Homo sapiens: one gene and its partners. The protein of the gene in region 3 purifies or fractionates together with the protein of the main gene of each other region. This does not show direct contact. Each region holds a gene or a part of one and is shown on either strand. Other genes may lie near its edges.

Evidence for each region.
Region 1: the proteins of TMPRSS11B (region 3) and CLGN purify together in Homo sapiens (affinity purification with mass spectrometry; 2 studies listed by BioGRID and IntAct, with this or other methods). This does not show direct contact.
Region 2: the proteins of TMPRSS11B (region 3) and TM9SF2 purify together in Homo sapiens (affinity purification with mass spectrometry; 3 studies listed by BioGRID and IntAct, with this or other methods). This does not show direct contact.
Region 4: the proteins of TMPRSS11B (region 3) and MSMO1 purify together in Homo sapiens (affinity purification with mass spectrometry; 2 studies listed by BioGRID and IntAct, with this or other methods). This does not show direct contact.

Annotation. Positions count from the first base shown.
Region 1 is NC_000004.12:140,417,648-140,424,674, reverse strand, and holds part of CLGN (calmegin precursor), read left to right. Parts: intron 1-7,027. UniProt on the Homo sapiens protein: Functions during spermatogenesis as a chaperone for a range of client proteins that are important for sperm adhesion onto the egg zona pellucida and for subsequent penetration of the zona pellucida.
Region 2 is NC_000013.11:99,496,977-99,504,491, reverse strand, and holds the start of TM9SF2 (transmembrane 9 superfamily member 2 precursor), read right to left. Parts: upstream 3,021-7,515; 5' UTR 2,886-3,020; coding exon 2,715-2,885; intron 1-2,714. UniProt on the Homo sapiens protein: In the intracellular compartments, may function as a channel or small molecule transporter.
Region 3 is NC_000004.12:68,228,689-68,235,715, forward strand, and holds part of TMPRSS11B (transmembrane protease serine 11B), read right to left. Parts: intron 5,936-7,027; coding exon 5,775-5,935; intron 3,729-5,774; coding exon 3,690-3,728; intron 2,693-3,689; coding exon 2,515-2,692; intron 829-2,514; coding exon 569-828; intron 197-568; coding exon 54-196; intron 1-53. UniProt on the Homo sapiens protein: Serine protease.
Region 4 is NC_000004.12:165,330,660-165,337,686, reverse strand, and holds part of MSMO1 (methylsterol monooxygenase 1), read right to left. Parts: intron 4,348-7,027; 5' UTR 4,317-4,347; coding exon 4,062-4,316; intron 1-4,061. UniProt on the Homo sapiens protein: Catalyzes the three-step monooxygenation required for the demethylation of 4,4-dimethyl and 4alpha-methylsterols, which can be subsequently metabolized to cholesterol.

The DNA of each region.
Region 1 (7,027 bases), about 72 Mb from region 3:
TGCTACCTTTTAATTTATAAGGAGGGAAGAGGGTGACATTAGCACTAAATGTTCTACCCTATACCATATAAACAAATTCTTGCTGTACTAAAATTATATAACTTAAACAACCATACAGATCAATAAAGAAATAGATAACACCACAAGCCAACTAAACATAATAAACATATGGACAACACTGTACCCAACAATAGCAGAACACACATTTTTCTTAACTGCACATAGAACATTCTCCAGGATAGACCATATTAGACCACAAAACAAGTCTTAATGAATTTTAAAAGATTGAAATCATACAAAGTAAGTTTTCTGAACACAAAGGAAAGGAACTAGAAATCAATAGTAGAAGGAAAACAAGAAAAATTCACAAATATGTGGAAATTAAACAGCACACTCTTGAACAATGAGCCAAATAAGTCTCAAGAAAAGTTAGAAAAACATCTTGAGACAAATGAAAAGGAGAACAAAAGATACCAAAACTTATGGGATACAGTGAAAGCAGTGTTAAAAGGGAAATTTATAGCTTTAAGCACTTACATGAAAAACAAAAGATCTCAAGTTAACAACCTAACTTACACCTTGAGGAACTAGAAAAAGAGCAAATGAAACCCAAAAGTTAGAAGAAAGAGGGAAATAATAAAGATTAGAGCAGAGAGAAACAAAATAGAAAATAGAAAAACAAGAGAGAAAACAAGTGAAATCAAGAGTTAATTCTTCGAAAAGGTCAACAAAAAAATTAACAAACCTTTAGTTAGATTAAGAAAAATGAGAGAAGACTCAAATAACTAAAATTGGTAATGAAAGGACATTACATCTGATTCTACAGAAATAAGAGGGATTATAAGAGAATACGCTGAAGGATTGTATGGCAACAAATTGGATAACCTAGATTAAATGGATACATTCTTAGAAACACACACTCTATCAAGATTAATCATGAAGAAGTAGAAAATCTGAACAGACCTGTAACTGGTAAGGAGATTGAATCAGTAAACAAAAACTTCCCAGCAGATAAAAGCCCAGGACTAGGTGGCTTCACTGGTGAGTTCTACCAAACATTGAAAGAATTAACACCAGTCCTCCTCAAATTCTTCCGAAATATTGAAGAGGAGTAAACACTTCCAGATTCATTCTATGAAGCCAGCATAACCCTGTTATCAAAGCCAAAGACACTACAAGAAAACTACAGAGCAATATTCCAGATGATTATTGATGCAGAAATTCTTAACAAAATACTTGACAACAAAATTCAGCTGCATATTAAAAGAGTTATATACTATGACCATGTTGGATTTATTCCTAAAATTCAAGGATGATTCAACATAAGAAAATCAGTGTACCATGCCACATTTACAATGTAGGGAGGGGAGAACACATGATCATCTTTATTCATGCAGAAAAAGCATTTGACATGATTCAACACTCTTTCATAATAAAAAACACTCAGTACACTAGGAATAGAAGGAAACCACCTCAACATAGTAAAGGTCATATATGAAAAGCCCACAGTTAACATCAGACTAAATGGTGAAAGACTGAAAGCTTTTCCTTTAAGATCTAGAATAAGACAAGGATGCCTGCTTTTTCCACTTCTCCCGAGCCAGAGAAATTAGGGAAGAAAAAGAAAGAAAAAAGACATTCAAATTGAAAAGGAAGAAGTAAAATTATCTCAGCAGATAACATGATCTTATATGTATGTACAAAACCCTAAAGATTTCACGAACACAATACAAAAGTCTGTTAGAAATAATAAATGAAGGCCAGGCATGGTGGCTCATGCCTGTAGTCCCAGCAATTTTGGAGGCCAAGGTAGCCAGATCAGTTGAGTCTAGGAGTTTAAGACCAGCCTGCGCAACATGGCAAAAACCATCTCTACAGAAAAATACAGAACATTAGCTGGGCATGGTGATGCTTGCCTGTAGTCCCAGCTACTCGAGAGGCTGAAGTGGAGGATCACCTGAGTCCAGGAGTTCAAGGCTGCAATGGGCCATGATGGTGCCACTGCACTCCAGCCTGGGTAACAGAGTGAGATCCCATCTCAAAAAACAAACAAATGAATTCACTAAAGTTGCAGGGTAAAAAAACTAGCACACAAAAATTAGTTGCACTTCTGTATACTAACAATGAACAGGAAATTAAGAAAACAATTCCATTTATAACAACATAAAAAAGAATAAAATACTTAGGAATAAATCAAGGAAGTAAAATACTTGTACATGAAAAATTATGAAATGCTGCTGAAAGAAATTAAGAAACAAATATTAATCAATGGAAAGACATTGTGTTCATTGGGATTGGAAGACTTAATAAGATGGAAACACAACCCAAAGTAATCTACAGATTCAGTGCAATCCCTGTCATAATCCTAATAGCACTTTTTGCAAGAATAGTAAAATTCATATAGAATCTCAAGGGACCCCAAATAGCCAGAACAATCTTGGGAAAGAATAAGTTTGGAAATCTCACATCTCTGTTTCAAAACTTATTACAAAGCTATAGTAATCAAATCAGTGTGAGACTGGCATAAAGACAGACATATATATCAATGGGATACAATAAAGAGCCTAGTAATAAATTCCCACATATATGTTCAAATTTTTTTTATAAAAGTGCCAAGACCATTTTGTGAGAAAGGACAGTCTTCTCATGAGATGATATTGGGGAAACTGGCTATCCACATGCAAAAGAATGAGGTTGTAACCTTACCTTAAATCATAGACAAAAATTAACTCGAAATGGATTGAAGACTTAAACATAAGAAAACTATAAAACTGTTAAAAGAAAACATGGAAAGCTTCATGACATTGAATTTGCCAGTAATTTTTATATGACACCAAAAGCACAGACAACAAAAGAAAAAATATATAAATTGGAAAACTCAAAATTAAAAAGTTCTGTGCATCAAAGAACACAACAAAATGAAAAACCTATGCAATGGGAGAAAATATTTGCCAATCATATATTTGATAAGGGGTCAGTATCCAGAATTTGTAGGAACTCCTACAACTCAAAACAAAAACAAAACCTGATTTTTTAAATAGGCAAAGGACTTGAATAGACATGTTTCCCTTGAAGATGTATAAATAGCCAACAAGCACATGAAAAGATACTCAGTATCACTAATCATCAGGGAAATGCAAATCAAACCACAATATGATACTACGCCATATTAGGACCTATTACAATGACTACTATTTAAAAAAACATAATTTTGAACAAATGTTGGCAAGGATGTGTAGAAATTGGAACCCTTGTGCCTTGTTGGTGGGAAGGTAAAATGGTAAAGCCACTGTGGAAAACAGTATGAGGATTCAAAAAAAAATAGAATTATCATATGACCAAGCAATTCAACTTATGGGTATATACTCAAAAGAATTGAAAACAAGGTCTCGAAGAGTTATTTGTATACCCATATTCATTGTAGGATTATTCACAACAGCCAACAGGTGGAAGCAACCCAAGTGTCCACTGACAGATGAATGTATAAACAAAATGTGGTGTATACACACAATGGAATACTGTCCAGCTTTAAAAAGGAAGGAAATTTGATACATGCTACAACATGGATGAAGCTTCAGGGCATTATGCTAAGTAAAATAAGCCAGTTACAGAAAGACCAATACTGTATGATTCCACTTATATGCAGTACCTAGAGTAGTCAAAATCATAGAGATAGATATTAGAAAGATGGTTTCCAGGGGCTGGAGGGAAGGGTAGTGGGGAGTTGTTAAAAGTGTATAGCGTTTTAGTTTTAGAGCATGAAGAAAGTTTTGGAAATTAGTTGTACAACAATGAGAATGTTTTACCACGTGATTTAAAACAATTTTAAATGCATAAATTAACTACTTCATTTTCTTGTAGTATTACCCCAGCATCTGACCTCTCAGAGTTTCAGTACAGACTTGTCAATAGCATACCTCTCTCTAAGAAATGAGATGTCACAAACCTCATAGTTTTGTTTGGAACTTAATAACATGTTGGCACCATTGTGAGACAGATTTCAAGACTGTGAACTTCAGTATCTAATTCTCAATTGTCAGCTGGTGCAGCACTGAAGAATGATAGGATACTGCAGCATTACGCAGAAAGTATTAAGTCTGTATTTCTGATTTTTTTTTTTAAAAAAAAGAACAAATAAAAACAATAGAACTGCATTGTCTACAGAATGCCTTCTAACCAATTGCAGTTCTTTAAAACTCTCTGTTTTTGTTTTGTTGATTAGGAATAGTACCTACGCTATTCATGTCCTGGGCTGTAAAGATTAAATTAGCTAGTTCTTTGATGTAAATATAAGATCATAGAATTTTAAAGAAGAAACAAACTTTCAAGATAAAGTGTTTTCTGAACTGTTTTCTGAAGCATTGGCAACTATTTCTAAGGAAAAGTCAGGAAAAACTATAATATAGAATACAAATAAAACTGGGGTGCTCTGGTTGAGTTAAGGGTAGAGTTCCAGATAGAGCACTACCTGCTTGGCTTCCTCTTAACTCTTTCTTGGCAGCCCAGTACACCAGAGTTCAAACAAAGCACTTAGAATGTTTTTTTTTCAACAAATTAATTGTTTGGAACCTAAAGTGTACATTCATTTGAAAGAGAGGATATGGGTCTAAAGTTATATTAATGTTCATTATTAGTAGTATTATTTTATGTGTTTTTATTTTGCTCAAAAATGATTAATAGCCAGTCAAGCAAAGTGCCTTTTACTATGTAACATGGAAGGCCCTTAGGCTTTTAGAACAATGAAGCTTTTAGAGTTCACAATTAATAAGCAATTTGCAGATATACAAATTTCTGTGCCAATAACTAGGAAATTAAGGAAATAAGCCTATTTCATTGTGTCAAATTGATCCCTTTACATTTACTTCCTATCCCAGTTATACCTCTTTTGTGATTTAGAGAGATCAAATCCTAGTTAATGACAGCACCCATCATTTTTGTCTTTGTCCATAAATATATAAGTAATTATGTAATTGTGGAATTATAGGAATTATATATGCAAAAGAACTTTCTCCATAGCAGTCTACCTGATTACAATAAGCCCTATATTTGTTTGATCTTTTGAATGTGCTTTGATTTTAGTAAAACTCTACCACATTAAATTTGTGATAAAAAAATTTTTGTATCTTTTCTCAGCATTTATATATAAATGTATTTTGGTTTTATAATTATAAAATTTCCATTTTTATGTTTATATACACTTAAGCAACATTATAATAAAAACAATTTCAGTGAACATTTAGGAATCATGATACTTTTAAAGAGGTCTACATATTATTTGTGTTTGATAACTACTATCATCTTTATCTTTAGATTTTTTTTTTATTATACTTTAAGTTTTAGGGTACATGTGCACATTGTGCAGGTTAGTTACATATGTATACATGTGCCATACTGGTGCACTGCACCCACTAACTCGTTATCTAGCATTAGGTATAACTCCCAATGCTATCCCTCCCCCGTTCCCCCACCCCACAACAGTCCCCAGAGTGTGATATTCCCCTTCCTGTGTCCATGTGATCTCATTGTTCAATTCCCACCTATGAGTGAGAATATGCGGTGTTTGGTTTTTTGTTCTTGCAATAGTTTACTGAGAATGATGTTTTCCAATTTCATCCATGTCCCTACAAAGGACATGAACTCATCATTTTTTATGGCTGCATAGTATTCCATGGTGTATATGTGCCATATTTTCTTAATCCATTCTATCATTGTTGGACATTTGGGTTGGTTCCAAGTCTTTGCTATTGTGAATAATGCCGCAATAAACATACGTGTGCATGAGTCTTTATAGCAGCATGATTTAGAGTCCTTTGGGTATATACCCAGTAATGGGATGGCTGGGTCAAATGGTATTTCCAGTTCTAGATCCCTGAGGAATCGCCACACTGACTTCCACAATGGTTGAACTAGTTTACAGTCCCACCAACAGTGTAAAAGTGTTCCTATTTCTCCACATCCTCTCCAGCACCTGTTGTTTCCTGACTTTTTAATGATTGCCATTCTAACTGGTGTAAGATGGTATCTCATTGTGGTTTTGATTTGCATTTCTCTGATGGCCAGTGATGATGAGCATTTTTTCATGTGTTTTTTGGCTGCATAAATATCTTCTTTTGAGAAGTGTCTGTTCATGTCCTTCGCCCACTTTTTGATGGGGTTGTTTGTTTTTTTCTTGTAAATTTGTTTGAGTTCATTGTAGATTCTGGATATTAGCCCTTTGTCAGATGAGTAGGTTGTGAAAATTTTCTCCCATTTTGTAGGTTGCTTGTTCACTCTGATGGTAGTTTCTTTTGCTGTGCAGAAGCTCTTTAGTTTAATTAGATCCCATTTGTCAATTTTGGCTTTTGTTGCCATTGCTTTTGGTGTTTTAGACATGAAGTCCTTGCCCATGCCTATGTCCTGAATGGTAATGCCTAGGTTTTCTTCTAGGGTTTTTATGGTTTTAGGTCTAACGTTTAAGCCTTTAATCCATCTTGAATTAATTTTTGTGTAAGGTGTAAGGAAGGGATCCAGTTTCAGCTTTCTACATATGGCTAGCCAGTTTTCCCAGCACCATTTATTAAATAGGGAATCCTTTCCCCATTGCTTGTTTTTCTCAGGTTTGTCAAAGATCAGATAGTTGTAGATATGCGGCGTTATTTCTGAGGGCTCTGTTTTGTTCCATTGATCCATATCTCTGTTTTGGTACCAGTACCATGCTGTTTTGGTTACTGTAGCCTTGTAGTATAGTTTGAAGTCAGGTAGTGTGATGCCTCCAGCTTTATTCTTTTGGCTTAGGATTGACTTGGCGATGCGGGCTCTTTTTTGGTTCCATATGAACTTTAAAGTAGTTTTTTCCAATTCTGTGAAGAAAGGCATTGGTAGCTTGATGGGGATGGCATTGAATCTGTAAATTACCTTGGGCAGTATGGCCATTTTCACGATATTGATTCTTCCTACCCATGAGCATGGAATGTTCTTCCATTTGTTTGTGTCCTCTTTTATTTCATTGAGGAGTGGTTTGTAGTTCTCCTTGAAGAGGTCCTTCACA
Region 2 (7,515 bases), on a different chromosome or scaffold from region 3:
TGTTTCATCTCTACACTATCACAACAATGACAAATATTGCACTTTTCCTCTAAGAAATGCAAAATACCTTTCAAGGGGAATATGTCATAATCAAATATGATTATCCCTATTTTACAGATGGAAAAACTGTTGGTAACAGTATCAATGACCTGCCCAATTTCTCCAACTTCAGATTCACTAACTTAACAGCATCTTTTGGAAAAAATTATTTCCATTTCACAACTCTCATTTCTAATTTTTAAAAGAAGTTCCTTCCACTTTTCTGAATAATGTGTACAAGACTGTCCTCCTTAACAAATACGAAATAGATGAGAATAAATTATTAACATCCTGATTGAAGTAATACAAATTTCAACTGTTTACTGTTATTTATAGCATCTTCTTTGAAAGGCAAAGAAAATAAATATTAAAGTGTATTTCAAATTCTCTACACCAGTTAGTCATATCGCAGGAAAAAAGCTGAAAGTACACCCTCCTGCTCTTCTAAGAGTTGTTTCCATTAACCAGATGTGAGTGTAGCTGGCAATAAAGATAAAAATCCAAACATTTCGGAAAAATGATCTGCTCTGCCTGTTTTATCCCTATACCTATGAAAATTAAACATCCAAAATGACTCCCAAGATTAACTAAAAAATAACTAGAATACAACCTAGCCACTTACCAAAGGACCTGTTGAGAAAACAATCATCTAACTGGAAGACCACCTATAAGTTTCACTTATTCATTTTCTAAGTCCATCTCAAATGTCACTTCTTCTTCTTTTTTTTTTTTTTTTTTTTTTTGAGACAAAGTCTCGCTCTGTTGCCCAGGCTGGAGTGCAATGGCGCGATCTCAGCTCACTGCAACCTCCACCTCCAGAGTTCAAGCGATTCTTCCTGCCTCAGCCTCCCGAGTAGCTGGGATTACAGATGCCCGCCACCACGCCCAGCTAATTTTTGTATTTTTAGTAGAGACGCGGTTTCACCATATTGGCCAGGCTGGTCTTAAACTCCTGACTTCAGGTGATCCACCCGCCTCGGCCTCCCAATGTGTTGGGATTACAGGCGTGAGCCACCACACCTGGCCCTGTCACTTCTTCTATAGAGCTTTCCCTAAAGACTCTAGTCCACTGATGTTTCCTCATTTTGTTTTAGCACACTTTGGACATCATCCTGTGTAACAGATCAGATTTCAATAATCTGTTCATAAGCTTATGTCCCTTACTTTGAGGTTCCCAGAGGGCAGGAAATATATTTTTCATCTTTGAGGCACTAGGAATAGAATATACAACTGCTGTTAAAGTAAGACCAAACACTAGGCCTTAAAGGTTGGTTACTAAAATATTTAATGGAAAAACCAGTGTACTTGCAAGTCTAGATCTTCCACTTGGAAGCACAACAACAGTCTTTCAGTCAGAATCCTCAAAAAGGAGTGAAAGCTTCTTGCACTGCAGAGTATGAACTTAAGTACTGAAACACTAACTGCAGACTTGAGTAAACCTTAAATATCCTTAGATATTTTTTCAGATACAAGGTTTTGCACAGATGTATAAACATGTCATTCAAGATAGCTGACAACCTAAAAAGAAACTGCAAAATGTTATGAAAAATTTAAAGCTTATCTAATGCCCTAAAATAACCTCAAAATTCACAGCTATAGTAAAGCTAACTGTAATAAACACCAGCTTAAAAAAATCAAACTTAATAAATAAGCCTATTTATAGATTGTAAACGTTTGTTGAACGATTATTTGAATTGTTGAAATCATTAAAGGTTTCAAAGAGATCCTCATCCCCCAAATGTTAAGTTTTAAATAAACTTAACGAAATAATTGTGTATGTATACTGTAAAGCCCTACACCATATAACCTAAAAGCAGGTTACTTTATTTACGCCTCTTTTACTAGCAATTAAACTGAAAACCTTGAGTGTGAATGTTGTAAGAGATCAAAGTTTTCAAGACTTGCCCTAGGAAAACACCAGTTTCTCCCACCATTTGCCCCTTTTAAGTGTTTAAAACCATCTCAGAGAAAATAGTGAGACCTCGTATCTTTTTTTGTGTATTAAAATCTTTTACACTTAAAACTCAGAAATCAAGTGCCTCAACCATTACAGCAACTCTTTATTAATGCACTTTGTGTGGCTCTGGGTGTTATACTCCACAAATAAGGAACCAACTTCTAATTGTGAAGCGAGATATCAAAGTCCTAGAAAGAACAAGCTCTCCTAACCAACTAGAAGGTTCCAGGAAAATGCAATTAAACAGGAAGCAATGAAGTTAAAAGCTAATGGAAACTGTTAACTAGGCTGAGTGTTGCTCACATGTAGGGAGTCGGTCACCCGCTTCCTCAGCGTACATGTTACAGGGCTGTGAGCGAACACTCACGCGTGGACCTGCATACATCCAACTCCAAAGCTCTGAGGCGTGAAGCCCAACTCCAAGGGCGCTCCACACGGTCCCTGTTCCAGGAAAACTGAATACAGCTGCTCGTGCCACTTGGCCCGCAAGACGGGAGGCGAGTCTGAGGCCCACTGCGTCCTCCAGAAACTACCCTTGCAAGGGCTGTTTCAGAGCCCCCCACCCACAGCCCAGCAGACCCCAAAAGCTTCTGGGGAAACTCAACCCCACCCGCTGCTACGCCCCCTTCCCTCGCTCCCACCCGAGGATCAGCTCCCCCGGATAGGGACGACTTCCCCTTCCAACAGTGCATCAGAGGGCTCGTCAGGCCTCACCCACCTTGCACTCGTCGCTCTTTTTTTCTTCGTCGCAGAAGTTGACGGGCGCCAGGCCGGGCAGGTAGAAAGCGCCGCTCCGGCGCGGGCCAGGAACCGCCCCCAGCAGGAGCAGCGACAGCAGCAACAGCCGCGGCCACCGAGGTGGAGACAACACCGGCAGCCTCGCGCTCATGATAGTTGTTTCGGGGAAAGGGCAATCAAACCTAGGGGGTCAAGAGGGAAGGAGGGGTGGGGAGTCTCGGAGACGACTACAAGGCCGCCAGAGATAAAGGAAGCCGGCCCCCAGAAGGCTAGTTCCGGTTGCGCTAGGAGACACCCCGGGTCCCGCAACAGAAACCGAAGCGGACCGCAACAGAGCATGCGCACCGCCGTCTGCACATGCTCAGTGAGAACGGTCGCAGGCACCAGGAGGAGTTTCCGGGAGGGAGCGGGGGCGAAATCCACTTTCCGGGTTTTCCGCGCGCCAGCTGAGGTGGTTGCTGGGAGAGGTGGTTGCTGGGAGAGCTGTTCCGGCGCTCACGTTCCAATTCCAAATTACAAATTCCGATCTAGAGCTCCCACGCTTGGGGGCTGTGGAGCGCTCGCCAGCCGCTCCCCGTTTGCTGCTGGGTCTTACGAAGTTCTCATATCCATCATACAGTTTCTTTGTCACACTGTCCGCGGCACGCCAGTCCCTATGACAGAAAGCACCTGCGGTCTGTCTGGAGGCGGAGTTGGTGGCGGAGAGAAAAAGTTCTGGAGACACCTGGTTGGGAGCAGGCTAAGGAAACAAATGGGGAGGAATTAGCCACAAATCCTCAAATAGACAGCTACTCAAAGGCATCTTCACGGACAATTTCCAAGCATTGGATGCAGTGGTGCATTCTTGCATTGGGCAGTGATTGTGTGCACACATCTCTTTAAGGGAGAGTGGAAATGGGGTGAGGAGGAAAATGGGAGTAGGATAGAGTGTAGCGTTGACATTTATTTTCTTTAAAGGAAGACCCGAGCATACCTGAGAGCTCAGTGAAGAAAGTAGTTCTGGCGAATCGGATTAATATGGTATGATCAGCCTTTAGCAAGATTCTATCACTTTTCCCACTGATGATGTGAGACGGTGTCCGCGTGTGTAAGTGCACACACGTGTGTGTGTGTGTGTGTTGCATCTTCTGAGTATTTTTCAAGGAGAAGCTTTTTAGTGATCTGAAAAAGTCAATTCAGTTAGCCACTAGAGTTCAATCAAAAACTTCGGAAGAGTGCATCATCTTAAAGTACATAAGAGAGAATCATGACCTCCAGCTCAGAATTCAAGAATAGGCAGGTTTGTGAAATAGTAAGCTCAGAAAGTTGAGGGCCAGTGAACTCCTATTTCAAGTTCTTGCGGGTGTTTGTACTTTTTTCCCAGGTAAGGTTTATAACTTTCATCAGATTTTCAAAGGGACCTAGGACCCTGCAAATTGATCCATATAGTGGGGTAGCCAAGTTAATCAAGAGAACTGGGAAGTAGAAAAGAACGTTCATCTTAAGGTTGTTGTGAAGATTAAATCAAAAATGGAGGGAAAGTGCTGAGCACATAGCTTGGCCCAAGGAATGGCACTTTTTTTTTTTTTTTTGATAACAAAAACTAATCTGGTAGGGCCTGAGCAGAAAATTGTGCCTAGGTGGCTTCCCTTTCATGTCCTCTCCCTCAAATAAATCAACATATTCGCTGAACTTTGGGATAGGGAAAAATTGTAAAATATTCTGTATTTGGAAGTCATGGAGATTTCCAATATAACAAAAGGAAGCAGACGTTTTCTCCAAATATTAAGAGGAGGAAACAAAAATTAACATTTTTGCTCACTATCTTCTTTTCCTAGCACCACTGAAACTTGACCTTCGGCCGGCGCGGTGGCTCACGCCTGTAATCCCAGCACTTTGGGAGGCCGAGATGGGCGGATCACGAGGTCAGAAGATCGAGACCATCCTGGCTAACACGGTGAAACCCCGTCTCTACTAAAAATACAAAAAAATTAGCCGAGCGTGGTGGCGGGCTCCTGTAGTCCCAGCTACTTGGGAGGCTGAGGCAGGAGAATGGCGTGAACCCGGGAGGCGGAGCTTGCGGTAAGCCGAGATCGCGCCACTGCACTCCAGCCTGGGCGACTGAGCACGACTCCGTCTCAAAAAAAAAAAAAAAAAAACAAAAAAAAAACTTGACCTTCATTATATCTCACTGCCCTCATCCCAAACATTTCCTCTCCCAGTTTTCCAGGAAACGGCATCGCTGCCCATCTCTTTTCAGGCCCCAACCCTGGAGAAGAACCTAAATTTCTCATTTCCTCACTACCTACCTCCAGTCCTTCAGCAGGTCCCGTTGGTTGGGCTGCTAAACTATGGGCTAAATCCTTTCAGTACTTTCCATGCCCACAGCTACCACTCTGGTCCAAGCCAAATTCTTAGTTCCCCTGGACTTCTTACTGCAGTAGCCTCTCAGCTTCCACTCTTGGCAAAATCAATTTTATAAAACCTTGAAATCCCTTAATACCACTCGTCTGCTTAAACCTCGGCATCCCACATTTACCACTATCAGGAAGGATCACGTTTGTTTGTTTGCTGTCTCATTCCCCCATTTATATGTGAATTCCACGGGTAAGGGCCTGCTCCTACATCCCACACCTCTACATCCACAGAGCCTAGAGACCGCAGGCGCGGGGAAAGCACTCCACGACCATCACTGGCCAGGCCACAAGAGTGCTGGATCTAAATTTGGAACCGGACTTTCAGAGCTGAAATAAACCTGAGGTTTTCCAGGGGCTTTTAACCTCCTTTTACAGCCAAGGATGCGCCTAAGAAAGGGGAGAGGCTTCCGTGACTTCCTGCAGTAACGCAGCCACTAGAGATTGAGACTACAACGACTTGGGAGTCTAAAAGTCTGCAACCTTTTCCACTCCAGAGCTCAATGTTTCCTCAATCCCCCGGGATCGGCATCAGCAAAAACCCGGAGAAGCGGAGCCTTTCTCAAAGAAAATGACCTCCAGACTCATGCTACCATCTCGACCGGTGCAAGTATCACGCATGCGCAGGGCCGGCCGCCCGGCCGCACCTCGCCAACTCCTACTCGGACACGTCATCTAGGTCGGCCTGGGTCTGGTGGGAGGGGCCGGGGGCGGGGCTCGTACGCGGGGCGAAGTGGTCCCCCTACTTCCGGATCCGGCCTCACCTGGCCAACGCCTCATTCGGGGTTCCTTGGTTACGTGGCTGCGGTGTCTACCCGGTGCTGGGGCGTGGCGGAGAGAGACCGCCCCGCCCTCCACGCAGGCCACAAAATGGAGGCCCTGCCCTGTGGGCTTTTGTGGCCTGGGCGCTGTCGTGCCGAAAGACGAAAGTGACAATTCCAGTTGCAAACTGGAAAGAAATGGAGTTTTTCCTTCATTCTCCCCATGATCGTGACGGTCCTTTTCTCAAAGTACTAATACTTTTAATGGGACTGTAAAACTTGAGGGATATGACTCTCTCCTCTCCTCTGCTTCAGATTGCATTTGCCAACTCTGATTTACCGCCAATACTATGGTGCTGTCATATTCATAGAGACAGAAAGTAGAGCAGTGGTTGTAGAGAGAGTCTGCAGAAGGAGGGATGGGGATTTACTGTTTAATGGCATACGGTTTCAGTATGGGTTGGTGAAAAAGTTGGGATGAATGGTGATGACTGCACAACAATGCAAATATGCTAATGTCACAGAAGTGTACACTTAAAAATGGTTAGACGGTAAGTTTTCTATTATGTATATTTTACCACAATTTTTTTTTAAATGCAACAGAGTCTCGCTGTTGCCTAGGCTGGAGTGCAGTGGCAGGATCTCAGCTCACTGCAACCTCCGCCTTCCAGGTTCAAGCGATTCTTGTGCCTCAGCCTCCCAAGTAACTGGGATTACAGGTGCCAGCCACCACGCCCAGCTAATTTTTGTATGTTTAGTAGAGATGGGGTTTCACCATGTTGGCCAGGCTAGGCTGTTCTCGAACTCCTGAACTCAGGTGATCCGCCTGCCTTGGTCTCCCCCAGTGCCGAGATTACACGCGTGAGCCACCACGCCGGGCCCCACAGTTTTTTGTTTTTGTCTTTTAAATTTTTTTTAACAGCATTTGTGTCTTTTTTTCTTTTTCTTTTGTTTTTGAAACAGAATCTCACTCTGTCACCAAGCTGGAGTGCAGTGGCGCCATCTTGGCTCACTGCAACCTCTGACTCCCTGGTTCAAGCAATTCTCCTGCCTCAGCCTCTCCAGTAGCTGGGGTTACAGGCACGCACCACCCCGCCCAGCTAATTTTTGTATTTTTAGTAGAGATGGGGTTTCACCATATTGGCCAGGGTGGTCTCCATCTCCTGACCCCGTGATCCACCTTGCCTTCCCAAAGTGCTGGGATTACAGGTGTGAGCCACTGCACCCAACCTAAATGGCATTTGTTTCTTCCACTCCTCTCTGCCAGAATAATTTGGACAGCCTTTTCTGAGTTTCCCATGACGACTTCTGTATAAGATTGTCGGATATAGCAAATAAAAGTACAGTATACCCAGGTAAATTTTAATTTCAGATGATCAATGAATAATTTTTTAGTATAAGTACATTCCAACTATTACATGGGACATAAGGGTATTTTATCTGATCACCCTACTTTTGTGTCAAGTTAAAATTATTAGCAAAAGTGCTTCCGTTTTTAGGAAGTGCACACTGTACTCTAGTAGTTAGGCAGGAGAACAGGGTCTGCGAGCAGGGAACCTAAGGCCGTTTCACACTGACTTCCTAGAGCCATTTGGAAAGGAAAACCCTAACTTTCCACTCCTAAGTA
Region 3 (7,027 bases):
ACTTCCATTTGATTAACTGGGAGAAAACAACTGGATAATGTAACTAGACATACCTGACATGCATCAGCTTCTCCTGACATAAATCCAGCACATAACATTGTATCAGTCACAAAGCCAGAGTATGCATATGAGGCATTGCAAATTTTGTTGTCAATAATCTTCAAAAAGTCTTCTTGAAGTATCACTGGAAATGAACCTAAAAGCAATAAGTGCTGCATATTATGCAGATCTTAGACTTTGCTGGGACAAAGAATATCTACCTATAGCATAAAGCAGACTCTCTTGGTCACCAAGAGTCAGGCCAGTCCCAGGTTAGATTAGTCTCTTTCAGGTGTTTGTAATAGTTGGCTGCCTAACACATAATTTCAATTTTTCCAATTCCCATTCCCAGAGATATTTTAGGAAGTGAAGACAATTTGACATCATGCTTTTTGTCCCACCACTTGGTTTTCTTTTCAGTATATTTACTGATTGATTAATTGCATGAGGGGATGATTGATTGATTGATTGATTGATTGATTAAATAGTTATTCCCATGCAGCTATTATGATTTTACAAAAAAACTTACCATTCATATAAAGTGTTCCCCAACCTGTAACTACAACATTGTCATTTTCTGAGAGCTTCATTTTGGCTTCAGGAAGACAAATCTTACGAATGTACTCTGTAAAAGAAACTTCTTCAGCAAGCTGCACAAGGGCAATATCATCATGAAGCCCAGGACTGCTATAATTTTCATGAAAAATAATGTTTTGGACTTTCCGTGTCATATATGGTTTATTTACTACAATTCCAAAGTTGACAGTCCAATCTTTTGAATTATTTTTCCTAGAGGACACAATGTAATTAGAATACACTCAGTTGCTGGGTCACAACACTGTTCTTAGTGGTGATTATCTCATAATTTTAAGGCATGAGGTTCCCAAACAAAACTATAAACCACTGAAATTCTATTTTGAAAACTATCTTTGACATGGAGCTGTTGTAAATGTTGCAGTCACTTAAAAATAATGCTAAGGACTCAGATTTGTCAGCTTTCTGAAGATCTTTTCAAGTAGAGTCACTGATGTTTTCCCCTGCTTATTCAGTTCCATCCAGTTTCTGAACATTTAATTTGGTCAGGAATCACATGAGCGTCCTCAATTCCGTAAGTGGATGGGGTCCAGGATTAGTCTTATTGCCACATACCCTTGGTTTCAATAGCTACTTTTTTTACCCTCACCCTTCTACCACCCTCAAGTAGGCCCTAATGTCTATTGTTCCCCTCCTTGTATCCATATGTACTCAGTGTTTAGCTCCCACTTATAAGCAAGAAGATGTGGTATTTAGTTTTCTGTTCCAGCATTAATTCATTTAGTTTGGATAATAGCCTGCAACTGCATCCATGTTCCTGCAAAGGCCATGATTTTATTCTTTTTTATGACTGGATAGTATTCCATGGTGTATATGACCCATATTTTCTTTATCCAGTTCACCGTTGCTGGGCATCTAGGTTGATTTCATGTTTTTGCTATTGTGAGCTGTGGTGTACATACAAGTGCATATGGCTTTTTGGTAGAACAATTTATCTTCCTTTGGATATACTCAATTTTTGGGTCCAGATTAAATTTTACGTCAGATGGATATGCTGTCTTTCTTCAAATTTCCATCGTACTTACTATCTTTGTAATACGTGTCATGTTTACAATACTATACAGCCTCGTACTTTTAATATATGACATTTAAATTTTCTCAACTAGATTATAAACTTCTGGATGGCAAGACAAGGAAGCACCTAGTAACTGGAGTCAGACACACTTGAATTCACATTCAGTTTCTATTATTTAAGAACTAGGCTGGGCATGGTGGCTCGCACCTGTAATCCCAGCACTTTGGGAGGCTGAGGCAGGCGGATCACTTAAGGTCAGGAGTTCGAGACCAGCCTGACTAACATGGTAAAACCCCGTCTCTACTAAAAATACAAGAATTAGCTGGACATAGTGGTGCGTGCCTGTAATCCCAGCTACTCAGGAGGCTGAGACAGGAGAATCGCTTAAACCCAGGAGGCAGAGTTTGCAGTGAGCTGAGATCGCACCATTGCACTCCAACCTGGGCAACAGATTGAGACTCCATCTCAAAAAAAAAAAAAAAGAGCTGAGTGATCTTAGCCAAGTTTTGTCACCTTTCCTGAGTGAGACTTAGTTTCCTCATCTTCAAATGGTTTTAACTATACCTTCCATACAGAATTGAATGTTGTGATTAAATGAAATGATGTTAAGTAAAGCACTTAATGTCAGGCCAAGGTACCTATTTGGAAAATGTTAATTAATACTTCTATTTGCTTTTCTCTCCTTTCTCTAATTTAAATGCATTTCCTTTCCTGCTCTTTAATTACGCAGGTGATTGTAAATGTTCTATGTGATTGTAAATTTCATATGGCCTTGGTGAACCTTGACACATTAAGTTAACCCCTACAAACTATCCAAAATAGTTTTGCACCTAGCATCCTTCATTTAGTCAAATTTTCAAACTTACTTAGCAAAGCAGTGAGCTGCAGATAATAGCCACCTGCTGCTGATCAGAGAGGCTCCACAGTAGTGACGGCCTTTCCATTGCATGCTGGCCTGCCATGGCCATGCCCCCTCCAGGGAGCTTTTTCCATTCACAATTTTGTTGCCAGTTATGATACTGTTGGCTACTTGTCTCCCACAACCTAGAGAAAGGATTTATTTACACGAGAGCAGGTATCTTTGATTACGCATTATAAAAAAATATATCATTAAAAATTACTTGAAACCTTTCAGTGATTATTCAACTTCTCCTAATTGATGACGTTTCTTTCCTACAAGATACTCCTGTGATGTTTCTGTATTCTATCTTGGTTTGAGTGGTTCTTACTTATCCTCTTTTCCAGTCTCAAGCATCTTTCAACCACTATTTTTTGTTGTGTCTATGTGTTATAACTCTTGTCTCTCTAAGCAGATTCTTGAAGGAGGAGCTTTGCCTCATTGGTGTCTACATCTTGCATAGTATATGCACTGCTGTCTGTAAGACACCATGTGAACAAAAGATACTCCATAAATATCCATGGAGTGAATGAATGCATAAATGTATCTTGTGGAAAACATGATACTCTAAAGAGAATTTATTTAAAAGATGTAACAGGACAGCGATATGCTCCTATAGGCCCAGCTACTTGGGAGGCTGAGGCAGGAGGACTGCTTGAGCCCAAGAGTTCCAGGCTATAGTCCACTGTAATTGCACCTGTGAATTGCACTCCAGCCCACACAACATAGCAACATCCCACCTCTAAAGCAAAAAATAATAATAATTTTTAAGATGCAGAACTGTTTTTATCTTTAATAAATATATTTTATATAGCCTGGTTTTATATTTTCTTCTTATCCTAAATTGTCATTTCCTTCAATCTTTCTCATTTTAACATATTCAAATATGATATTTTTCACTCACAGTTTTATTATTTGGAATCAATTTTCATTTAACTTTTTATATATTTTTTAATAAATGTTAAAATTAATAGACCAGTGTTTTTCAAAGAGAAATTCTAAGTCAATATCTGGTATATCTAGTAATTCGGAAAGCGTGTTATGGGATTTCCACATGACATATTTCAAGTATTTTTAATAGAAAAATAATGAGAAAATACCTGTGAGTCCATCAAATTTATAATTAAAAGGTCCTTAACTTACAGTTGTTGGTAAGCATTTCAGAAGCAGCCTTGCTGATTTCTGAAAGTGAAAAACAAAACAAAATATAAAATTGAGCAAATATCACCAAGCAATTGACTTCAACCTAAGAACATAAATGCTAACTTTCCTAACCCAATATTGTCCAACATTTAACTATTTGGAGTAGTTCAGGTATTTTCAGCCCCTCTGACTCTTATTTGTTACATTATAACCATCTCTCCATATCTCTACTAGGTAGCCTAGAAAAAGAGAAAAGGGAATAAAAAACAAAAATCAGTTTTATGATTATTGAAGTAAAATATTCAGTGCTGTAAGAAGCTGGCACCCTTACAAATTGTTTTTTTATTATACTTTAAGTTTCAGGGTACATGTGCACAACGTGCAGGTTTGTGACATATGTATACACGTGCCATGTTGGTGTGCTGCACCCATTAACTCGTCATTTAACATTAGGTATATCTTCTAATGCTGTCCCTCCCCCCTCCCCCTTACAAATACTTTTAAGAGATCATGATAGAGATTTCTTTCCCATGATAATTCTCTTTACTCTGAAATGCTCAGAATTATATATATTTTAAGGAAAAATGTCCCAATTAAAATTATACTTCACTGAGCCCATCCTGCTCTTTAGGGAAATCTCCTTACTAAGAATGAATCATGAAATTTTGAGAACTTAAATTTAAATCTTTTTCCTATTGGTAAAAGACTTTAGAGAGAAGGAGAAGAGGAGGAAACTAAAGAAACACTAGAAAATGCTGACTATACTCTATGGGACACAGAAAGAGAGTAAACAACGTATCCCTCTTTCCCAAAAGCTACTCACAGAAAAATTTTATTGCTCCCTTGAAAAGTTCTACCTCAGGTTCCCTTCTTATTAGTGGTTCACTGGTAACGGGGTCTTTATTGTGTGGCAAAAGAGCGGTAACTGGCAGATGTTGCTGGCCTTTCAAGCCCTCGAAGACCCTAGGATTAATTGTCTGGCTGGAAGAACCATGAAACTGGACTCTGAAATCATATGCTTATCACCTAGCTGGACTTTTAACAATCCAAGTGACAGTTTCAAGACCTTTGCAAAACCTTCACAATCTTTACAAACTTCACTTTCTGTAAGGAGGCAAAATCTTATCATTTTTCTGTGAGAAGCTTTTGGGAAAGAGGGATAGATTGTTTACTCTCTTTCTGTGTCCCATAGAGTATACTCAGCATTTTCTAGTGTTTCTTTAGTTTCCTCCTCTTCTCCTTCCCTCTAAAGTCTTTTACCAATAGGAAAAAGATTTAAATTTAAGTTCTCAAAATTTCATGATTCCCTTGTTTTCTAGGGAATTTTCCAGACAATTTTTTTCTTTAAAAGTGGTATTACTCCAGTTTTTTCACAAAAATCAATAAGAACTCCCATCCCTAACATTGTTCTTAACTCCTGCAGTCTCCTTACTGAAAGACCAAGAAAGCCCTAAATCTGCTTTCTGTCATGAGATCCTGACAAAAGCAAGGAGTAGAAAAGAAAGATACTTTGCCTGGGCTCGGTGGCTCATGCCTGTAATCCCAGCACTTTGGGAGGCCGAGGTGGGCAGATCACAAGGTCGGGAGTTCAAGACCAGTGTGACTAACATGGTAAAACCCTGTCTCTACTAAAAATACAAAAAAATTAGCCAGGTGTGGTGGCGGATGCTTGTAGTCCCAGGCTGAGGCAGGAGAACTGCTTGAACCTGGGAGGCAGAGGTTTCAGTGAGCCGAGATCACGCCACTGCACTCCAGCCTGGGCAACAGAGCAAGACTCCATCTCAAAAAAAAAAACAAGAAGATAATTCAATTAGAACCCTTCACCCCCTTTCCCATGCATAATAGCCAAACCCTTCCAAACTTACATCCATGCTTGCAGTGTAACCCTCATTCCTATCATTCTTCAGACAATGATTCCATGGCACTGCCCTTTCCACTACCAAGTCATTGCTAGGGGTGCCAGAGTTAGGTACGCATATTTTTTTCCCGAATTACTAAAACTCTTAGTTCACTTTTTAGTACTTTTTAAAAAAATAATCCAGAAAAAACCTATGTAATAGAAAATAATGGAAATAAGTCAAATACCCATGAGTTTAATGGAAGCAGGAACTGCATTCCAGGATGCCATGTTGTTTTTCAACATCTGATGTAATTTAGCCTTGATTTTAGTCCTCATGCTAACTCCTTCTGCTGGAGGAAACTTGAATTTCAGCTGTAACTGCACATTTGAACCATTGGCATTAGGCCTAGAAACAACAGAAATTTTCTAATGTACTGTTTCTTGATCTTTTAGAGGTTTTGTGAACACATTAAATTTCACACATTTTAATTATCACATTTTCTTTACATATATTAAAGAAAAATATACATATACTATCTAAGCATGTATAAAATTCAAAGATATCTAAAAAAACTTCTAGTACGTCTAGTTCAGATGTGCTATTCATGGAAGAAAATATAGACCACAAACTAAAATCAGAATATTTCAAACACTATGGGAAATGGAATACTGGCCAAGAAATGATTGGCATGAAGTCTTACTATAATACAATAAAAACCAGTGCTCTCATAAAGAATTTTTCTAATAACTTCATTTTATAGAAAGAGATAAATGAGAAAATAAAGATAGGGCAGGGAAGCATTCAAAAGACAATTTCCAGCATGTATTTAGAAGCCAGTGCTAACCTTCTTCCTACGGTTTTTTTATACATAACCAGTCTGCCCCAACAGATCTATACAATGAAAAAGCTCAGAAAGAGAATTCTAAAGCATGAAGGACATCTTGATTATATATTCAGTACATTCTTTTGATTAATCAGGAAAAGAGATTAATTCATTTTGGAAGACTTTCAAACCAAAGCCATATCAATCAGAATTGTTAAAATATCCATAATTTCACTTTCAAATAATTATGATCAATTCTAGGGTCTTTGAAGGTTTTTGTTTGTCTGTAGGTAAGTAGGTTGGTTAGGTCAGCTGGATTTTTTGTTTGTTTTGTTTTGAGAGTTCAGAATTCCCCAGAACTGATATTAACAATTACCAAATTACAAGTGGGCTCTACCCTCATTACTCTTCCCCCATACACTATACCCTCCTCCCTGCATCCCTCCCTACCACCACTATCTTCAGGCATCCTTCAAAGGTGTGTCTAGACAAATGTTGTCTTAAAATATTGTCTTTGTTCCACAGCCATTGTAAGGATGATAATTATTAAGGAAACTAAAATAGGATGTTTTTAGGGAAGGTATGGGCTAAAAACAAACCAGTTGAATTATTTGTTTTCCCTGGAGTTATAATTATCTTTCATCATAGCAGTCAGTTAGGACTGACCACCACCA
Region 4 (7,027 bases), about 97 Mb from region 3:
TATGTTAACTTTATATAACTAAGACTCAGGAATCTTTGCCTTCTAAATTCTTGACAACTACTATCACTACTTCAGGTGAAGAAACTGTTAACAGATGCGCCTAGCCATGATGATCTCAAACAAACTAAGAAACACTATGGAATGAATAATTCTCCAGTCTTTGCTGCCACAGATCATTCACTTCACTTCTTTTACCAGAAGTTTCAGAGAAGAAGAAATATAATATGCTAAGATTACTGTTGGGTGTCCACAATTGAAGAAGTTGTATACGAAGCATTGGAAGCCTTTTACACAGTAAGTCGATGCTTCCAGGCACTCAGTGGTATTCATTCCAACAAATAAATGCACTTTTGTTCAAATCCAATGACAGAATTATAAACTCTCTGAGTTGAGAAGTACACAGATATGTCCTGATTATGGAGTTCACAGATTCAAGTCAAAATGAGAAAAGTTAGATCAACATGGGATGTTCGTTAAGACCTCATCAGGATACCCATTTGCTTAGCAAGTCATTATAAAAAACAAAGCAAAACAAAACAAACACTAACTAAATGTATTCAATTTATAGGACTGCACTTAAAAAAGTGCTTTGGGCTTAACAAAACGATGGTGACAATAAATATCAGTTATTGCTTTGTTTTAAATGTCACTGCTGAAAAATTCAGGTATCCGCCAACAAAACTCTTTTAATTGAACCACGATATCCAAAGTACGGGAACTACTGCGCATCAGCAGAAGCCCAAAGAGGTCAACCAGCTTGGGCAGGGTCACACACGCAGTTATTAGCAGAAGTTGGACTAACTAAAATCTAGGTCTCCAGATCCAGCTCTGTTCTTGAAATTCTTTAAGGGTTATCTTCCTGACAAAAATAGGAAAAGCACTGAACTAAGAATCAATCCAGAGACTTGTGCTCTAATACCAGGGCTGCTACTCACCAGTTAACTAGCTCTTGTGATGTTTACAACTCAGTTTCTTCAACAATAAAATGGGAGGATCTGACAGCTGCCTTTGTATTTCTAATCTGAGCATTATCTAACCCCACTCCTCTAAACCTCCACTCTGTAATTGGGGACAAAATAAATGAAGGATTCAGGCTTCAGTTGGCAATAGTACTGTCTCCTACAGCAACTATGGTTAATAGACTTAATTTTCCAGGTAGACTGGGATATCGATGCAGTTACAGAAATTACAAAGTTAATCAACTATAATAAAATCACATGCTATACCATTTACAGTATACATAAATTAGTTACAAAGACAGTTAGCAATACAAATTCATACCTAGTGCAATATGAAAGTTTACCATATTTTACTTTCTTTATGCATAACTGTACTTAATATAAAGGAATACCTTTACAAGGGCCACAAACTTCAGAAATAATATTTTTAGTACATTTATCTTTGAGGAAAATTTTTGGAGAATTACTAAGATGTATGTTTTTTTTTTTTTTAAAGAAATAGATCCTGCAAAGTCTGCTTTACTTTTTCATTCCTGTGAAATTTTCGCCTAACTAGCAAGGATGTGCATTAGCTCTCCAGTTGTCTGTTCTGTTTGAAAGCAGAAAGTCTTTAGTACTATTTCATCACCACCACCAACTTCTTCTATTCTTTTCGACAATTTTAAGAATAAAAACATTTATTGCATATGTTAAATATAATTCTCAAATATTTTATCTTAAACAATTGATACCCTCAATGTTAATCAGGGTATCTGCCTTCGAAATGCATAAACCTGTAATTAATTTGTACCAATATTTTGGTTTCTTTTAAAACTCCTTTAACTTGTGAAAACTAGTCCTGGTTTAAAATCACATTTTTTATCAAAAATGCTCAAAGCATGGACTTTAATGGTTATGAAACATAAAGACTTGCTGAGTACAGACTTGAAGTCAAATTATCCAGCCTTACAATCTGTTCATAAACAACTAGCTCTGACCAACTAGACTACAGCTTATTCTTTCCTTTGCCACATTATATTTTAAAGCTGCTCATATACCCTTGCCTGAGAAAGTCCTTTGTCTCTCTGCAAAGGTTACTACTTCTAACCAGTGAGTCAGTTACAAACTGCAGTGAAGGAGAAAAAGGATGCTTTTGCCTGGCCAGCCATACAATGAATTACAATGAATAAGCCCTATAAATAAATCACTGGGTGAAACACGGCAGCCACAATCACCCTAAAGGTGCATTAGAACTTAGACGTCCAAACTTAATTCTGCCTTTCAAAGCAGCTGCTTTCCTAAAAAGCACTTTGGAGCTTCTGTGACCTTAATTGAGGGTCACAGAGTACTCTCCTTTGGCCCTCCTATTTTTTATTTCCTTCGCCTTTACCCTTTGCTCTTTTCTCCTTTGGCCTGGAGTCCACAGTCATCTGACCCCTGCATTATCCCCAGAGAGGACTAATATTAATACCTGCTTAAAGTGAGACTCTGGGAGAGGCTGTGAAACTAACAGAATGATAACAGAGAATGTGTACAGACTGCCATCCAAAATATATACAGTTGTCCTTTGGTATCTTTTGAGGATTGGTTCTGGGACTTTCTGCAAATACCAAGATCTGAAGATGCTCAAGTGCCTGATATAAAATGACATAGTATTTGACATAACCTACACGAATCCTCTCGTATACTTTAAATCATCTCTACAGCACTTATAATACTTAATAAAATGCAAATGCTCTATAAATAGTTGTCATTTTGAATAATGACAAGGAAAAAAAAGACTGTACATGTTCAGTGTAGACACAATTTTTTTCCCCTGAATATTTCTGATCTGCAGTTGGTTGGATCCATGGATACAACAACCCATGGATATGGAGGGCCAATTGTACTAAGTGAATGTAAATTACTTTCCATAGATGAATACTCTCAATGGTCTACTTTCTACCAAGACTGTGTGCCCCTGAGTTTTAGTTTGGAATGACTTTTTATGAAAAGTAAACAGCAAACACTAGAAACTATCATCAGCTTACAAATTCTAACAAATAATTCATCTTTCTAATAAGCTACTCCAAATTCTCACGTCAAGCTCACAGGCTACATATGAGATTTCACCTTGTCATGTACATAGCGACCTCTCAACATTTAGTGCAATGAAGCAAATATCCAGAAACGAGGAGCATCACCTCCTTATTTGGGATGATACGAATGCTGCAGAACTACCTACCATATATTTAGGGAAAAAAAACTTGAATAGCCCTGATCAAGGTCGTAGTGTATTAACAGTCCCTTAGATTTACTGGAACATAGAGTTGGGGTGAACTGCAAAATATGCGCAAATCACCACACCTTTCCTTTCCAGCTAGCTTAAACATTAAAATTCATAAACTTAAGTTAGATAACCATCACATCTACTTAAAGCCCAATTTAACAAAGTATTCTTGAAATGTTATCAATAATGACCTAGGACTGTGTTGCTCAATTCAGGAGCAACTAGTAACATGTGGCTTCCAAACACTTTAAACATGGCTAGTCTAAATTGAGATAGACTAAAATTAATGTAAAATACACACGGAATTGCAAAGACTTATTAAATATCTCATTAAGTATTTTTTAGAATTTGATTACTGATTGAAATAATAATTTACATTTATTTCTTATTTTTTTTGAGACAAGGTCTCACTCTGTCGCCTATGCTAGAGTATAGTGCTGCAATCTTTCTGCTTCAGCCTCATAAGTAGCTAGGACTTACATCACCATGCCTGGGTATTTTTGTATCTTTTTTGTAGAGACAGGGTCTTGCTATGTTTCCCAGGATGGTCTTGAACTCCTGGCCTCAAGCAATCCTCCTGCCTTGGCCTCCCAAAGTGCTGGAATTACAGGCATGGACCCTGCACCCAGCGATAGTTTACATTTATTGAGCTAAATGATACACATTATGAAATTAATTTCCTTATTTCTTTTTACCTTTTCTATGTATTCTACTAGAAAATTTAAAATTACATACGTGGCTTCATATTTCTATTGGATATCACTGCTTTAGCCTCACAAAACAAAGCCCTATGTACTTTTAAAATATTCAGCAACATTAATGATAATATTCTATTTCTAGTCCCTTATACTCACCTTTTGAATTTTGTATTTTTTCATATAAGGTATAAATTGAAATAAAAATCCAGGTAAACAGAATAAGAAATAAAGGGCTTCATGAACTATAAGGGATCCCCATGTTGCAATCTGGAACTTTGTATAATTATTCAACATATAGTTCCAAGCATTTTTAAATGGTTCTTGCAGAGGATTCTCAGGTAAAAGTGAATCTACATATTCCACAGCCAAGGATGCTGAACTAAAGATGCTGACACTTTCATTTGTTGCCATTTTTCAAATCTCTGCAGACAGCCTTATAATTCTGTAGAAATGAATACATATATAATAAGTTAAACAATGAGCTTTCAAAAAATAAAACAGTTAAAAAATGCATCCTCTGATCATTTTAAAAATGATAATTACTAAAGGAGTATAAATTTTTTACCAAAAAATTACTAAAGGAGTACAAATGGTTTTACACCATTTTAAAACATTTGCTGGATATCATCACCATTTCTATTTGTAGATATTCCTTTAAAAAACACATTATTTTCAAGAACAATAGCTAAAAGAACAATAGGGGAAAAATTTTTTCAAGCTATATTTAAAGAAATCGTCAGTGTGGTTCTCATGGAAAAGGTTCTAATTTAAATGAGCAATAGCTGGGTTTAAAAGTATCACTTAAAGCCAAAAGAACCTATAAAGAAAAAGCCTGCCAAATATGAGTATATAAAAATTAAGTACCTCCTACTGGGGAATAGAAAGACAAAGTCAAAGATTAAATGACAAACTGGGAAAAATATTTCCAACATTTTACAACAAAGGGCTACAAAGTGTGCTTTAGAAAAAAGACTAAAAAGACAACAGAAGAACGACAAATGCCATTCACAAGCAGTTCACAGAAAAATAAAGGCAAATGGTCACTAAACAAGGAAGAATCTTCACTTCATTAAATGAGGAAATGCACCCTAAAACAAAGAGACACTTTTAGCCTGAGTAGCAAATCTTTAAAAGCTTATTAATGTCCAGTACTGGTAAGAGGGTGAGAGAACAGGCATGACCACACACTGTGGGCAGGGGGGATACATCAGTGTATCATTGGAGGAAAAATTAGCAACACCTAATTCAAAATGAATACATCCTTTGATCCAGCAACTTTCTCATTCAAGGGTACAAAGACAGATCCGCTAAGATGGAAGGAAGCATTGCTTGTAGCAGCAAAAACAAAGAGGAAAAAATAAAAGCAAAACACAAATAAGCCATCAACAAGGTATGGGTTAAATAAATTAAGTCCTTCCATAGACAATTATACAGCCATTTAAAAGAACAGGGAAGATCTATACGCTCTACATAGAAAGATGTCTAAGATACAGTGTTAATCCAAGTAACAAGTTACAGAACAGTATGCATAGCAAGAGCCCCACTTAAGATTTTTTGAAAAGGATATGTATTTTATCTATGCACTTTTATGCATATGTATATACACAGACACACAGAAACAAAAAATGTACATATGGATAAAGGGAAAAATTCACACTGGTGACTTCTAGGAAAACAGAGTTGTGTGGCAGGGCAGGAGATAGTGTTAATGAAGACAGCGTGGCGGGGTAGGGGAGAGTGTTATGGAAGACAGCTCGGCGGGGTAGGAGACAGTGTGGTGGAGTAGGGGACAGTGTTATGGAAGACAGAGTGGCGACGGGGTAGGGGAGAGTGTTACGGAAGACAGAGCGCGGCGGGGTAGGAAATAGTGTTATGGAAGACAGAAAAAAAAATCTGACATATGTCTTTTGCACAATTTAAACTTTTTAAATGAGCATGTTCTACTTACCTAATAAATAAGCTCAATAGGTCACTAACCAAAAAATAAACTTCTCAAGGGTCACTTTCCTAAAAATGTTCACCACTGCTGCTTCTAATTTATGAATTTTTTGGACCATTTTAAAAATGAGTATTTTAAAGCCTCAGAAGCATTCTAAATAGTGCTTTAAAAGTCCCCTTCCCCAACACTTCTCAAACTGACCTTTTATCCCATTCTACAGAAGGAATATTGAGAACCTAGCCAACTCCTCCAGGCATCTGAATTCACTTCAGGCCGTCCTCCTTCTGTCCTACTCATCTCAAATGACTTACACCACAGTGACTATAGTGTTCCATCCTGTGTCATTACAGGCCTTAAAATTTCTTTGCTCATTCATTCTTTCCTCTAAGACTGACTAGTCTTCCTGTGTTCTTATCTTACCTCAAGAACTTGTCCATCACTTATCCTTTCCCATCTTTCATCCTTCTCCCTTCATGGAATCCATTCCTTCAGGTCTAAAAACACATTCACGTCTTTTCTTTTTTTTTTTCTTTTTTTTTGAGACAGGGTCTCACTCTGTCACCCAAGCTGGAGTGCAGTGGCACAATTATGGCTCATTGCAGCCTCGACCTCCCAGGCTCAAGCAATCCTCCCACCTCAGCCCCTCGTAGCTGGGACCACAGGCACATGCCACCACGCCTGGCTAATTTTTTTAATTTTTTGTGGAGACAGGGGTCACCCTATGTTGCCCAGACTGGTCTTAAACTCCTAGGCTCAAGTAATCCTCCCATCTCAGCCTCCCAAAGTGTGGGGATTATAGGTGTGAGCCACTGCGCCCAGCCTACATCTTCCTTTGTTGATAAACACCTTCCTAGCCTCCATTACCTCTTCCAAGCCACTGTCCCATTTATCTTTCTTTGAACCAACCAACTTCTTTCTCAAAGGAGAGCTCTACATAAAGATTGCTTAACTCAGCTGGGCATGGTGGCTCACGCCTGTAATCCCAGCACCTTGGGGAGGCTGATGCGGGCAGATCACCTAAGGTCAGGAGTTCAGGTGAATCGCTTGAAATGAGGAGGTGGAGGTTTCAGTAAGCTGTGACTGCACTCTAGCCTGGGCACCAACAGCAAAACTCCGTCTCAAAAAAAAAGAATAAAAAAGGTTGCTTAACTCACCCACACAACTCACTGAGCTACTTGCAATC